2 linked regions of the Homo sapiens genome follow. Changing the gene in region 1 together with any one later gene gives a genetic interaction. Each region holds a gene or a part of one and is shown in the gene's direction. Other genes may lie near its edges.

Region 1 (3,947 bases):
CCCCAACCCACCATCCTCCAAGAACATCCTTGTGTTCAGCTATCCGGAAGCTCCCTGAACACTGTCCTTTTGGGTTTTTATGGAGGCTTCATTACTAGGCATGATTGATTAAATTATTGGCCATGAGTGACCAGCTTCACAGCCCCCCTCCCCTTCGTGGAGGTTAGGAGGTAGGGCTCAGATTTCCAGCCCTCTAATCTTGCCTTGGTCTTTCTGGTGACCAGCCCCCATCCTGAAGCTGCCTAGGGGCTGCCAACCATTGATGATAACTCATTAGTATACAAAAAGACATCACCTTGTAGAGACTCTTAAGTATTTTAGGAGTTGTAAGCCAGAAAATGAGGTCAAAGACCAAATATATATTTCACAGTATCACTACATATTTTAAGACCCAGGAAAAGTTTAGTTTCTTTGCATTTTTAAAATAAACTATTTCATTCTCTTCCTATACTGAGGTAGCTTAACTGATCTACTGTCAATTTTAAACTGGTTAGAAGCTGTTTAACTTCTGTAGACTTGTATTTCTACCAAGAAAGAATGAGACATACTGTGAGGATCAGTATCTGGCAGGTAGTCTCTTAGTGTTAACTAAATGTTTTGACCCTTAGTACTTACTTAGTAAATGATAGCTATTATTATTTTCATGGTTCTACACATATGGTCTCAACAGCCCCTTTCTTTTTATCAGTTTCACCCCACACAACTCATAGTTGGAGAAATCTTCAGCAGTTGAGCTAACTCATAATCTGAGTTATATATAGCTAGGCCTCATGTACTTGTCACATTTTTACCAACAATCACAAAATTTTTAATTAAGTTTGTAGTTATTTCTAAGTTTGAAGACCCTCAATTATTCAGAATTTTAACAGGATACTTTCTTTTTCCTTGGTTAGCAATTATTTTGAAAATAGAAAATGTGTAAATATTAAGAACCTTTTTTTTCCCTCTCCCAGGGGCTTCTTTCCTGTCGTTGTTGGCTTTATTAGAAGAGTGCCAGTCCTTGGATCCCTCCTAAATTTACCTGGAATTAGATCAGTAAGTAATCATGTATATTTTAGGCCAACAAAATACGTATTTTGATGCTTTTTACTTCTAGAAATTTGAGTAATTGATACTTGGTTAATTGCTGAGTTTTGTATTATGATATAGTTACTTCACATAGATCATGAGTACCATGAAGACCAAAAAATAATTATTGCTAAACCTATAAAATGTGAAATTTTGTTTTACCGTATCCATTTCTGGATCCATATTCTCTATTTTTTAATGTTACTCAGATTTGATATGCTATGCTACCTTTCTCTTTGAGAGTTCAGGGCATTTTTTATTTAACTTTTATATAATCTCTAATTTTAGAAGCAATAATGTAAAAAGGAAACCATTATTTCCTACAAATATTTTGTTTCTCAGACTGTATCACCAATAGACTAGATTCAGACAATTAAATAAGGCCGGGTGTGGTGGCTCACACCCTGCACTTTGGGAGGCTGAGGTGGGTGAATTGCTTGAGCCTAGGAGTTCGAGACCAGCCTGGGCAACATGGTGAAACCCCATCTCTACCCCCGCAAATACAAAAATTAGCTGGGTGTGATGGTATGCCTATAGTCCCAGCTACTCGAGAGACTGAGGTGAGAGGATTGGCTTGGGCCTAGGGGGTCAAGGCTGCAGTGAGCCATGATTGTGCCACTGCACTTTAGCCTGGGTGGGTGACACAGTAAGACCCTGTCTCAAAAAAAAAAAAAAAAAAAAAAGAGTTGAATAAAGCACTATTATACTGGGATTCAGATGGTAAGAGTCTATTCCCAGCTCTGTTTACAGTTTGAACAAGCTTGTCAAATTTGTTTTCCAGTGTGTGCCTTGGTTTCCACCTTGATAAAATAAAGGGAATCAAATCAGACAAGAGTTAAAGAGAATGTTTTCAAAGTTAACAAATAGAGTTTCTTCCTTTTATTCAATATTCATTCAACAAATGTTTCGTACTAAACTGCTACCTTGAAGGTTGTAACATCTTTTGGTGGAGTCTTAGAAGGCCATTCAGAATTCAGCTTATTTTTTGCCACCTTGGGAAAAGCTTTCCTGACTCCCTGTGGCTGACTCGGGGTGTGCTTCTATAACATTCCTGTGCACAACTCTATCATAGCATTTACCTCTGTTTTTTTCTTTGTTTTTGTTTTTTCTTAGAGAGAGTCTCAAACTCTTGGGCTCAAGCAATGCCCCCACCTCAGCCTCCCAAAGTGCTGGGATTACAGGTGTGAGCCACCACACCCAGCCTTACCTCTCATTTAATTGTCAAAAAAAAAAGGCTTCAGGCCATGCATGGTGGTTCACTCCTGTAATTCCAGCACTTTGGGAGGCCAAGGTGGAAGGATTGCTTGAACCAGGAGATCAAGGCTGTGTTAAGCGATGCTCACACCGCCACACTATAGCCTGGGCAATAGGGCAAAACCTTGTCTCAAACAAAAAAGAAAAAAGAGAAAGGAAAGGAGAAAGGGAGGCACTTCCATGTAAAACTACAGTCCTTGAGGGCAGAGACAGGTTGTATTTTAGTCATTGTTCTATCCCCAGTGACCCAGCATAATATCTGCCGTATAATGGAAACTCAAAATATTTTCTGCTAAGCAAGTGAGTGAAGGATGGCATTTTGTTGACCTCAGGGAACTTGCTCAATTTCAAGACAAGACCAGATGACTGTCTCTTAGCCTACCTCCTCAGTTTCAAAACTAAACAAAATCCTTAATTTCTAAAAGAATCTAGGTGATCTAGAATTCAGCTGAGTTGGCTACAATCCTTTTGGCTCTAGGTCAGACCCATATCAGAAGTATTCATATCCTTCTTTGGATTGGTTTCATAGATCCAACTCTGTCCTAAATAACTAGGATAAACTAGCTTTATAGGAAAACTTAAAAGACTACAAGTTCCAGTTAGGTTCAGGGAAGTTAATCAACTTTCTAAAGTTGTTCACAGATTTTTATAGATGTTTCTAGAGAGAAAGTTCATAGCATTTTATTGAATGCTCAAAGAGCTAAAGAATGGCTTACCTATGGAAGAATAAGTACCACTATAAGCCTAATCCCATTTCCATCCCCAGGGTAATTTTAGGGTCAGAACCTTACAGCCAAGACAATCTAAATATTTCAAGTTACCTTTGGAGAGAGAATATTGTGCTTTCTCTCCACTTAAATTTACCTTAAAATTCTAATAAATCCATGAATTCTTTGAGAGCAACTTTTAGTTTCAGTGGCCAGCCACCTGTTTGTGATAATATAACAAAATGTTGGAATGTAGGCTTATAGGGGTATACTCTGATTTCATTTGCATTAATCTGCAAATTCATACAGTGGTCAGTGTTATTTATACCTAGAATGGCTTTTGAATGTACTGAAACTTCTAGTTACAGAGTTGTAATCATTATTTGTGCCCTTAATTTAAGGATTCTCAAGAATTTGCATAAATGGACACCCAATACAATAGAATATGTTTCTTATCGTTATTCATCATGATAAGTGCTTATGTAAACATGTGAATCGTGAAACAAAATAAATGATCAGATGATTACTAGAATTTGATAGTATAACCACCTGGGTTATATAACTTTTAATGTCTCTACCAATTATATACAATATCAGTCTTTACATCACCATCTGGAATGTTAAAAAAAAAAAAAAAGCCCAACTGCTTTATGTTTGGGGTGGAGTAACCAAAGTAAATAACCACTTACAGTAATGTGTGTTAAAATTTATATTCAATAATTATAAATTTATGCTTACATCATTAAATCTATCTTTAATGTCATTACCACTTTCAATCCAAAGTCCAGAATACACATTTAAAGTATTTTTAGTCAATAACTGTTGTTAACTATTGAACTTAATGGAGTTAAATCTGTTTGTCCAAAGACTACATAGGCCCAGAAGAGATCCACAGTAATGGTCAGTTGAAATATCTTA
Region 2 (3,500 bases), on another chromosome or scaffold:
TAATTAATAAATACTCCGGAATACCCTTGGCTTGTCTACCGTCCCACTTTTACTCCCCAAATAAATCGCTTCCCTATAAAAGTGGTTAAATGCTATATGATAGTTTAAAAATTCCATTTTGTTTACCATGTTTGTTTTTCCCTTCCCTCCCTTTTAGAGTTTCGTATTTAATGATTATCTGATGTTCTTACTTTCAAATCACAGACTAGCCACAGCTAGTTTGTCTTTATATGGCCTATTAATTAAATATTATGTGGTATCTTAATGGGGAATATGTTATTTAACTTAGGCCGAAGACTGTACTATGGAAGTTACACCAGGTGCAGAGATCCAAGATGGCAGATTCAATCTTTTTAAGGTGAATTTTAGTAAATTATCCTTGGTTGCTCTCATTTTTTGTTCTTGAGTCTGCTCCCATGCCACTACTCAAGGGACAAGATTAAAGTGGAAATAGCTACCTTTTTTCCAAACCTTCAGCTTCCTGGTGACTTACAAATTTGCTGATTGTTGTTTTATCTCCACTTTTGCAAGCATGTGAATTTATAGCCTATTATACTAACAAATGCCGAGTAAAACTATTGTTTGCTATATGTTGTGATTTCATTTTGAGTCGTAATACATGTTTGTAGGATAGAAAAGTTAGTGGCAACAGATTATGCTCTCATTGTAGATAATACTCTAATCTTTATCAACAGAATTGGAAACTTTTTTGTTCTCTTTAAAAAAATGGTAAGGAAGGTGGCATACTGTTTATCTCTATGACACTTATAACACTGATATCATTGGTGTAATGCCCTGATAGCTCAAGATATCTTCAAAAATCTTAGGCATTCTCTGAGAGGCTTTAAGAACTCAACATAATGAGATACTGCCATTGATTTTAAAAATTTGTTCTTAAAAGGAGTAGGTTTATGTGAGAGACTTTGAGGTTGATACTACAACTTGTATAACAAGTCTGATTTCTGGCTTCTCCATTCCATGGTATGATCACAGACCCAGTCCAAAGAATAATACTATATTGTCATAGTTCTTTTATGGAAAACTGATTGTGTACTCTTTTTTCTTTACCTTAATAGTTGACTCTTATATTGAATGACACTGGGATGAAGATTGGGAGTGGCTTTTAGATTGGGTTGTATACTCAGGGAACTTTAGTGGACTGGAAAGAGACCACTGCTCCCCTTTTGGGTTTGCAGCCCTGTCCACCAGAATACTGCCTTATGCAGTGTGTGTGCTATGTCTGCAGATACAACCACTCTACTGTACACAGTTCTATATAGATAATTTTATTTTAATTTACATCCTACTTTGCGTAAGTATTTGGTTCTTCTTTTGCAAATATTTTGAAAGTATGTGATGATGTCTGTTGTGTTTTAAAGGGTCATCAGTTTTTTCTGGGTTATATTGTCTATATAGGCATTGAATATATTAAACTTGACTGCAATGGGTAGAAAAGTTGTCTTAATGAACTAGTTCATTAGCAGCAGTGCATTTTATTTTCTTTTAATAGAAATGAGAACTGCCATCATAAACTGTTAGCTTCTGTATACTTCATTTTTTGTAGTAGACTTAAAAAGAGAATAAAAAGAAACTCCTAGGGGTCAGTCTCATTGAAGGTAGCCGTTATGAATGTGTATTTTATATACATACTGTGTACTGAAAAATTTATTTTGAAGTTTCTTTTGGCTATGTGAGAGGAGGTCATAGAGTATTCCATTCTGATTGGATTCTGAATGAAAGATTTTAATTCGATGGGTACAGTCTTCATGGTTTTCTTGCCTTGATAGTGTGTTTAAATACTAATATGTTTGGTAGAAATACTGATTTGGGAATAGGGTGTGTATTAAGAATATGTGTGGCAAACATTTTTTCTTTATGTATATTGTGGTCCGTAGGAAATGGTGGAAATAGGGCCATGATGAGCAGGACATTGATTTTAAACTAACCTGCAAACATTTGTGTAGCCAATAGGAAGCTGTTTGAAAGTTCCTGAGCAGTAGAATGAAGTGGCAGATCTGGTATTTAGAAAAGGAACTGGCAGCAGGATGGGCTGTAGAATGAAAGGGGTGTGAAACAGATAGGGAGCTGTTGCCATACTATGGGACTAAAATGAACTAGGGCCTGAACTCACTTATGAGGATGAATGGGCAAAGGAGTGGATTTAAGAATTAAAATTTATTTTCATATCTGCTGCAAATAGAATTTTTTCATCCTTAAGTGTGAGACAGCCCATCAGCCTCTTTAAGATAACTTTATTTACTTTTCATTAAACAATTTGCAAACCCAGTAACAAGTAGAATAGTACACATGAACCCTTAGGTGCTTATCATACAGCTTCAACACTTAACAGTGTTTTGACATTCTTGAGGTAACAGCCTTTTATGTACTTCAATATGAATAAAGTTTTTTTAAAAAGCAAAATAAAAGAAATTTAATAGGTATAAAAATAAAGCCACTCAATTGGGTACAAAAACAATTGTGTAATTATTTAATTAGAGTGAATGGCAAGAGAGAAGTGACTAGTGGGAATAGATAACATGTATGTATGAGAAAACGTTGACTACAACGTTTTCTTAAAATATTTTTTATTCATTTGTGCACATATGCATAGATTTTCCCCCCGGCCCCCCCCCCCCCCCCCGCCCCCGGCTGTGAATGTATGAGCTTTGTCACCAGTTTTCTGAAATTTTACAGTTATGTGTCTTGGTCTGTTTTCATCCATTGTACCAAGCATTCTCGATTTGGAAGCACATATCCTTCACTTATGGAACACTTTCTTCTTTTACTTTTTTCTCTGCTTTCTTTTCTATTCTAGATAATATTGGATATCTTCGAATGGTCTTCTAATTTTTTTTATTGTTTTTCTCTTTTTCATCTTTTCCATTATCTGGGAGAATTTTTTATTCTTATAATGTTATTGTACTTAGTTTTCATTTCTGTTGTTAATTTCCAAGAAAATTTTTCTTTATTATTTAGTTGTAGCATCTTATTATTCATGCCTACAGTAATGCAATATCTTTTTCCCTCCTCTCTCAAAGGATATTAATGATAGGCTGTTTTGTTTCTGTTAGATTTTTCTTTTCCTGCATAGTCTGTTTTCAACTTGATTATTTAAGTTAGTTATTTTTATCTTCTGACTTAGACTTTTCTGAAATGTTTGTTGATTGTTGGCCATTCACTCATGTAACGGTGGGCTGCTAAAATTGATTGGAAGCTCTGTACATCTGAATAGAACTTGCTTGACTGCAGGCTTCACTGGAGGGCTGTTTTTTCACATTCCCTGATGTCAGTATTTTTAGGTGTTTTTCTTTTTGTGGTAATCAGATTTTTTCAGATAAGGTATTCCAGTATTCTATCTAGAGGGTATATACTTGGCTGATGCAAATGTTCTGGTAGCTGGAGCTTTTAATTTCTGAATTTTTGAGGGTCCTGACATGATAATCATTGTCTTTGCTTTCTCATCGCTGACTTAGGATTCAGTTTTCTTTGGTCTGCTCAGT

The links. A genetic interaction does not mean that the proteins touch.
Region 2: changes in GOLT1B (region 1) and FIP1L1 together harm fitness more than expected from each alone (negative genetic interaction), as found in Homo sapiens cells (one large-scale study listed by BioGRID).

Annotation. Positions count from the first base shown.
Region 1 is NC_000012.12:21,511,342-21,515,288, forward strand, and holds part of GOLT1B (vesicle transport protein GOT1B), read left to right. Parts: intron 1-953; coding exon 954-1,035; intron 1,036-3,947. UniProt on the Homo sapiens protein: May be involved in fusion of ER-derived transport vesicles with the Golgi complex.
Region 2 is NC_000004.12:53,391,141-53,394,640, forward strand, and holds part of FIP1L1 (pre-mRNA 3'-end-processing factor FIP1), read left to right. Parts: intron 1-289; coding exon 290-358; intron 359-3,500.